Homo sapiens: one gene and its partner. The protein of the gene in region 1 interacts with the protein of each later gene in a pairwise test. Each region holds a gene or a part of one and is shown on either strand. Other genes may lie near its edges. The genes, in order: PPARGC1B and ZNF200.

Region 1 (3,818 bases):
ACCTAAGAACCCTCCCGGCTCCAACAGGCTCTGATTTTCTAGCTGAGTCCTGCCAGCCTCCAGGAGCCACAGCACCAAGGGAGGGGCCCAAGACAGGCTGAGCAAAGCTAGACTTCACACTCCAGGACAGCTCAGCTATGGGTGCTCTCAGCCCGGATTGAGAGCGACTGCTTCCAGTAACTTCTGAGTTCCAGACTCCTTTGAAAATCTGATAAAATCTGATGTTCTCCCTAGAAAGCTGCTATTCCATGTGCACATTTCCACATTCCGCACACGCTCACACCGCATTTAACTTCTGCTGGTGGAAGTGTAAACCAGTCCAACATCTTTGGAGGGCAATCTGCAAGTATCTGCTTAAACTGGAAAATCACAGATCCACAGACCCAGGAATTTCATTTTTAAGAATTTGTCCATTTACATGTCACAAAGGCCTGTATAAGAACAGTTACTGTGCCACTGCTTGTAATGAGGAAGGAGTTGAAACAACACAAATACCCAACAGGGGAACCAGTGAAACCCTACCAAGGAACATTACACAGCCAACACAAAGAATGAAACAGAGCTCTACGTGCTCATGTGGAAGAGCTTCCAAGACACACAGTTAACCGTGAAAGCAACGTGCAGAGCCCTAATGTAGACTCCCTTTTGTAGTAAAATCTTTTAAAAGGTAGAAGAGGAAAGTCACATAACAGATCAGTAACCATGGTTACCTCTGGGACAGGAAAAAGCAACAGAGAGAGGGCTAAGGAGGTTTTGCTTTTAACTGTCCACTTTTACTACCTGGATTTTTACCATGTGTGTGCAATCTTCAGGAAAATGTTTTGCATGTAATTTCAAGGATTTAACACGTAACTTGGTCAATCCCTAAAGTACCAAAGAGCATAGAGAATGCAGGTGAAGCCTCTGTCGTTAGTACCTCTGTCTAGGTGGGAAAGGTTAAGTCCAGGGGGGCCTCCCACCTTCGGCCCACGCTCTCTGCTGTGATCAATATTGCCAGTGATGCACGGAGTCCCCTGCGGGGCTGGAGCGGATTGCTCTGCACCCCATGCCCTGAACCAGAAACCTAATCCCAGGCTGCAACCATCACTTCTGCTGTAAGTAGGTTCTTACCAGTGAGAGCTCGTCCACCTCAGGGGCTGGGGCCGAGGGCTTCTCCGGGGCAGGGCTGGGGGGTGCAGATGAGGGGGCAGGCGAAGCTGAGGTGCATGATAGAGCGTCTCCACCATCCAGGGCTGGGAAGGCAGCCAGACCCACGTCATCTTCAGGGATGTCATCCAGGGTCTTGGTGAGCTCTGCCAGGAGGGCCTCATTCTCACTGTCAATCTGGAGTGAGGAGGGCGGGAGGGTCAGAAAGGCAGATGGGGAGATGGTTAGTCACCACCTTAGACTCAGTCTCCACGGTGGACACCAGCTCTGCCCAGCCAGCTGGCCCACCAACACCCTCCTGCCATACCCTCCCCTCTGCCCACCCAGCAGAGCTGCTCAGTATTCCTGGCATAGCAGATGCCCAATAAATGTGTTATTGACTCCAAGAATCCCAGAATTTTATGAACAGGCAGTAGATGACAATGGAAAGGGCCCTGCCTGGGAGTCCCACTCTGGGCTCTGCTGCTTATCACATACCTGGGCACAGGGCTGTCCACCTGAGTGACGCCTACCTCCCCCACCAAGGACAGAGGCTGGCCTACCACACTGGTAGCAGCAACCCGTTACAGCCCCTCAGACCCTGGGGTCCAGGCAGAGTGAAGGCCAGAAGCTCCAGGGTTCAACCATGACAATAATAACCACAGCAGTGACGAGGCAGCTATAATTTCTCTGCGGGTTCCCAGAGCTTACTCTCCTCATTCACTCCTGAGGAGGTAGCAACTATGGTGATTAGACACTCGGGCTCTGGAGCTGGGGCTGTACCCCAGGTCCCATACTTAGCACCTCTGGGCTCTCAGGCAAGTTAGCTTTCTCATCTATCAAGTGGGATAACACACAGCACACATTTCCTAAGGTTACTGCTGAGGACTAGATGAGTAAACTTAGGTAAGATGCTTAGAAAATGGTGCCTGGCACAAAATAAAAGCACTTGCTACTGTGATGACTGTAACTACTACCACTACCACTGCTAGTGCTGCTACTGTTACACGATTTCTGCCATGACGATGATGATGATGACAGTGGTGGCGGTGGTAGTATAACTGCCCCCTGCACTCTTTGCTCCCTTCCTTCCCCTTCCCGGTGGCTACTCTGTGCCTGGCTTCATGCTGGACGCTGGTGATAAACAGCACGTGGAGAATGACATGCCCCGCTCCCATGGAGCTTACCCTCCTGTGGAGGATGGGACGAAACTAACAAACAAACAAGATCATTTCAGAGCGTGAGAAAGGCTAGGAAGAAAATAAAAGGAAGCCATGATGGAGAAAAAGAATGTGGTGAGGACTTACAGGCTCTTGAGGGTGGTCCCAGATGCCTTCTCTGAGCAGCTGATACTTAAAGGTAGGCTTGAAAGACACCAGCCAGGTAAAGCGTTAAGGAGGGGAGACCCAGGAAGAGGGAAACCCCAATCAAAGGCCAGAGGCACAGCGCTTGGCTGAAGAGAGGAGTAGAAAGGCTCTGTCAGGCTCAGGGAGGCCTCACAGCAACCTCGCCCAGGGGCGCACGATTCTGATCTCCATTTTGCAGTTGAGGACACAGAGGCTCCTGGAGGCTCAGCAACTTGTCAGGGGTCACATAGCAAATAACGTCCAAAGCCAGGACTTGGACAGCAAGAGTGCCCCATGCACAGATGAACCATAAGGAGGGTCGGCGTGTGTTCCCCCAGCCCACAGGCCCCCACGCCCAGAGGCCTGGTGTGGAGAGCACGTGGCTTCTAGGTGAGGCACCGAGCGCCTCATTTAGTAAGGCCTGGTCCCCGGGCTGTTCTGGCAGAAGGCACATTCTGTCACATGATGCCTCCTCCGGCACTCTTTCCCATCCCAGGTCAGGCTGTTTATCCTTTCTGCAGGAAGTTCATCTGAAATACACGTCTCGTGACGGCCTTTTGGCTGCACTAAATCTGTTCCAGGCCTTACAGCCGGAGCAGCAGCTGAGTAGTTCGAAGGGGGAACACGGGGAGAGAACAAACGCGTTTGTAATTTTTAGAACAGAGCTAAGAATAAAAGAAAGGTCAAAAGAAGATTTTGGTTGGGCCTGACCCAGGCCCTGGGGATGGAGGCCCGAGGGTAGATCAGGGTCCGAGGACTCTGGCTTTAGAATGCAAGCGGGCTCATTGGCTGCCCCCACCCCCTACCCACAAGTCTCCTTCAACCCTCAGGCCAGACTCCCAACCCTGTCCAGCCCAGAACCATCTGTCCAGCTTGATGGAGAGTTAAGATCCTGGAACTTGGGCCTCAGCGACCACTCTTGGGGTTCTGCCATCAAAAGGGTGATCTTAGGCAAGTCGTTTCCCTCCTCTATGCCTTGCTCCTTTCCCTGTGAAATGGGAAGACATGATCCCTGGCCAGCCTTCCTCCCTGGGCTCCCAGAAGGCCAAGTCTGGAAGCAGTAATGAGAGTGCTTTGTAGAGTGCTTAGGTCCCTAAGCTCAATGCCTGGGACATGGGAGGCACCACGGCAGATTTACTTAATGAAAGAGTGAATGAACCAAACAATGAACAATGGCGGGAGGCTAAGTTCAGTGTCTCAAAGAGCAGATTCTAGAGGGAAGTCATTCAGAGATGACATCATCAGCACTGCACGAACTGAGAATTCTCACTCTTTCCCAGGGAGAGTACCAAGGGCCCAGAGATATTGTGAATTATCACAAATATCAGAGCCGGAAGGGCTCTCAGG
Region 2 (3,818 bases), on another chromosome or scaffold:
GGTGGGTGGCCATTTTTCCCTGTATCTTGGGGGCAGTGAGGGGAGAGGTAGGGAAAACCTGCAGACATAGAAACTGTGGATATAGAAACTGTTCTGAACCCATTTTCTGAACTCTGTTCTCAACAGGTATATTTGAATGTTTTCATTGAACACATGACTAACTCTTGTAATCCCCCTCCCCTTTTTGATGTTCAATAGATGTGAAGACTACTAGCCTAAGTGAAAATATATTCCACTATTGGTGAAAGTAATGTTTAACACTTAATGAGCACTTATATGCTGTTACATGCTAGGCACTAGTCCAAATGCTTTTCATGTGTTTATTCTCTCATGTACTTCTCAGAGTAATACTGAGTGGTATAGAAATTACTGCCACCTTACAGGTGACAGAACTGAGGCAGAGAGGGGTTACAAAATTTGCTAAAGTTCACACAGTTGTAAGTAGGGGAACAGGGATTCGGACTCAGGGAATCTGACATCAGAATTTGCAGTAATGGCCCAGGGCTGTACTGTCTCCTAGATGCATTTCTCATAATTTTGTCAATGAATTCCGTGTATGGTTGGTGAATGGGGCATTCTTTATTTGTCCTCATTTCCCAGTAATAGTTGACAAGTGTCCCCCAGTGCTGTGTATGAACTGATCAAGCAGCAGCCTCTCTATAATTTGCTTAGAGATGCTTTACCTTTTCTCTAGAAATGTTGCAACCCTAGAGGCAGAGGCCCGCACAAATGTCTTTACTGAGTGCCGGACACTTTTTACTTTGCCTTCAGGGCTTTTTGTTTCTGAGGGTGAAGTTGTACAGAGAATAGGTTTTAGAAGTTGCCTGGGGTGACAGAAATCCATTATGACTGTCAAACTCTTAGCTGTAATTATACCGTATGGTCAGAAGTATTGGTATGTAATGAGTGTAGTTAATTTCCCGCAGGTTGCTCTATGTGATATCTTCTTTATTTTAGAGAAAAGGATAAAAAGATCAGATTTATTAACACTGAGTTTTTCCTGAGTCTTGGGCAGAGCTGGCATTTATTTTGGGTGACTGGTTAGTGGATATATTGCCTCCAAGATCACTTCGACTATGCACTTCAGGGCCCCTAAGACCCAATCCTCACCCTCTGTTCCCCACTTCCTCCACCCGTACCCTGAAGCTGGTGGCTTAAGCTTAGTCATTTACCAGCATTTCATAAATGTACTAGTTTTTTCCTCAGGCAGGATTGGGTTCTGGAATTGTATTCATCAGGTTACGAAGATGTTATATTCTTGCCTTTTGTAATCTTCCAATTTGGTTTGTAAGACAAGTCATTCATCAAACGATAAGCAGTGTGAAATTTTTATAGGTATAATGAGCTATCGCAAGACTGAGGTAAGATTTGGACCCGGGGCAGAGTAGTGAAGAAGGTGGAATTGATTTTGGATGAGATTGAATCCATGATGGGAAATAAAATGAGATTATCCTCCAGATATTTGGAAATTGGGGATTGGAGTTCAGATGTGAGGATATAGGGATTGGGGAGCCATCAATTTATAGGTGATGATAATTGAAACAGTAACATTTAACCAATTTTTGCAAAGGAAAAACTATAACGGATTGAACATTGTGGTGGCAGGAATCAAAGAACAGTCCTTGATAACCTAGGGAAACAGAGAATGTGTGTGTTGGCCAAGTGAACCACGTAAAAATAAGGAAAAACGTAGAACACTTAAACAGATTTTCAGTAAGATAATTCTTATTATAGCTACTGTGTGCTGTGATAGGAGAATACACCTTTTCAAGATTGAAGAAAATTGACTAAATACTAGGCAACAAACAAAGACTCAGATTCCAAGGAGTAGAAATAAAGTAGGATCTGTCACAATGCAGTACAACTAGAAATTAATAATAAAGATCAGTAAATTAAAGTTCCTTCCACCTGGAAAATTTAAAACTCTTAAGCAACTGTCTTAGTACATTTTGTGCTGCTATAAAAGAATACCTGAGGCTGGGTAATTTATAAAGAAAAGAGGTTTATTTGGCTCACAGTTTTCTGTAGGCTGTACAAGAAGCATGGCGTCAGCGTCTGCTTCTGGTGAGGGCTTCAAGAAACTACTCATGGTTGAAGGAGAGCAGACTTCACATGGCAAGAGAGGAAGAAAGAGAGTAGGAAGGTGCCAGGCTCTTTTAAACAGCCACATTGTTAGTGAACTAAGAGTGAGAAATCACTTATTATTTTGAGGTGGCATCAAGCCATTCATGAGCGATCTACCCACATGATGCAGACACCTCCGACTAGGCCCCACCTCCATCACTGGGGCTCAGATTTCTCTGTCTTTATTTATTTATTTATTTTTTTGAGACAGAGTTTCGCTCTTGTTTGAATTTGGAAGTTTCCTTCTTTTTTTTTTTTGAGACGGAGTCTCGCTGTCACCTAGGCTGGAGTGCAGTGGTGCGATCTTGGCTTCCTGCAGTCTCCGCCCCCTGCGGTTCATGCCATTCTCCTGCCTCAGCCTCCCGAGTAGCTGGGACTACAGGTGCCTGCCACCTTGTCCGGCTGATTTTTTGTATTTTTAGTAGAGACAGGGTTTCACCATGTTAGCCAGGATGGTCTCAATCTCCTGACCTTGTGATCTGCCCGCCTTGGCCTCCCAACCTTCTTTTTCTATACTCTGGAAATTTTCCTAGCATTTGAATTATTTAATTTTTAAAAGTTTAGAAGAATTTTCTGTGGAACTGTCTGAGGCTGGTGCTTTTCTTGGGTAGGTGGCTAGTCTTTTTTTGATAATTTCAATTTTCTCTATGGAAATTGGTTTATTTTTGCTTAAATCTTACTAGTTTTTTTCTATTTTTAACTCATTACTTTCTAATTGGTATTTATTAATACCTTCATTCTTTTAAATTTATCCTATTGTTTTTCTAACTTTGAATCAGAGGCTTTATTATTCTCATTTTTCTAAATTAATACATGTTTTTACAGCCATGAGCTCTCTTATGAGCATCACTTTAGGTTATACCATAAATTCTGATATACACTTGTCCTTGGTATTCATGGGGGATTGGTTCCAGGACCCCCACTCAGATACCAAAATCCATGGATGCTCAAATTCATTATATAAAATGGTGTAGCATTTACATATACTCCACACATATCCTACCATATATTTTATTTCTAGATCAATTATAATACCTAATACAAAGTAAATGCTACATAAATAGTTGTTATACTAAATTGTTTAGGGAATGACAAAAAAACTGAATATGTACAGACAAAACCATCCTTTTTTTTTCTCTCAAATATTTTCAATCCTTGGTTGGTTGAATCCTCAGATGCAGAACCTATGAATATGAAGGTCTGTATAATGTTTTCTAGAAAAAATATGCAATTTTAATTTGTTTTTACCCCTTTGACGCAAGGTTGCTGATATAGTTTGGATATTTGTCCCCTCCAAATCTCGTGTTGAAATCCAGTCCCCATGCTGGGCACAGTGGTTCACGGCTGTAATCCCAGCACTTTGGGAGGCAAAGGCGGGTGATACCTGAGGTCAGGAGTTTGAGACCAGCCTGTCCAACATAGCAAAACCCCATCTCTACTAAAAAAAAAATATACAAAAGTTAGCTGGGTGTGGTGGTGCGTGCTTGTAATCCCAGTTACTCTGGAGGCTGAGGTAGGAGAATCACTTGAACCCGGGAGGCAGAGGTTGCAGTGAGCTGAGATCACATCATTGTACTCCAGCCTAGGGGACAGAGCAAGACTCCATCTCAAAAAAAATAATTAAAAAAACAGAAATAATACAAATCTATTAATATTTCTTATATATAAAGGAGAAAAATCATTTGTTTACTTGT

Evidence for each region.
Region 2: the proteins of PPARGC1B (region 1) and ZNF200 interact in a two-hybrid assay, tested with the Homo sapiens proteins (one large-scale study listed by BioGRID and IntAct).

The regions. Positions count from the first base shown.
Region 1 is NC_000005.10:149,824,178-149,827,995, reverse strand, and holds part of PPARGC1B (peroxisome proliferator-activated receptor gamma coactivator 1-beta), read right to left. Parts: intron 1,324-3,818; coding exon 1,111-1,323; intron 1-1,110. UniProt on the Homo sapiens protein: Plays a role of stimulator of transcription factors and nuclear receptors activities. Activates transcriptional activity of estrogen receptor alpha, nuclear respiratory factor 1 (NRF1) and glucocorticoid receptor in the presence of glucocorticoids.
Region 2 is NC_000016.10:3,228,428-3,232,245, reverse strand, and holds part of ZNF200 (zinc finger protein 200), read left to right. Parts: intron 1-3,818. UniProt on the Homo sapiens protein: Localizes protein arginine N-methyltransferase PRMT3 to the nucleus.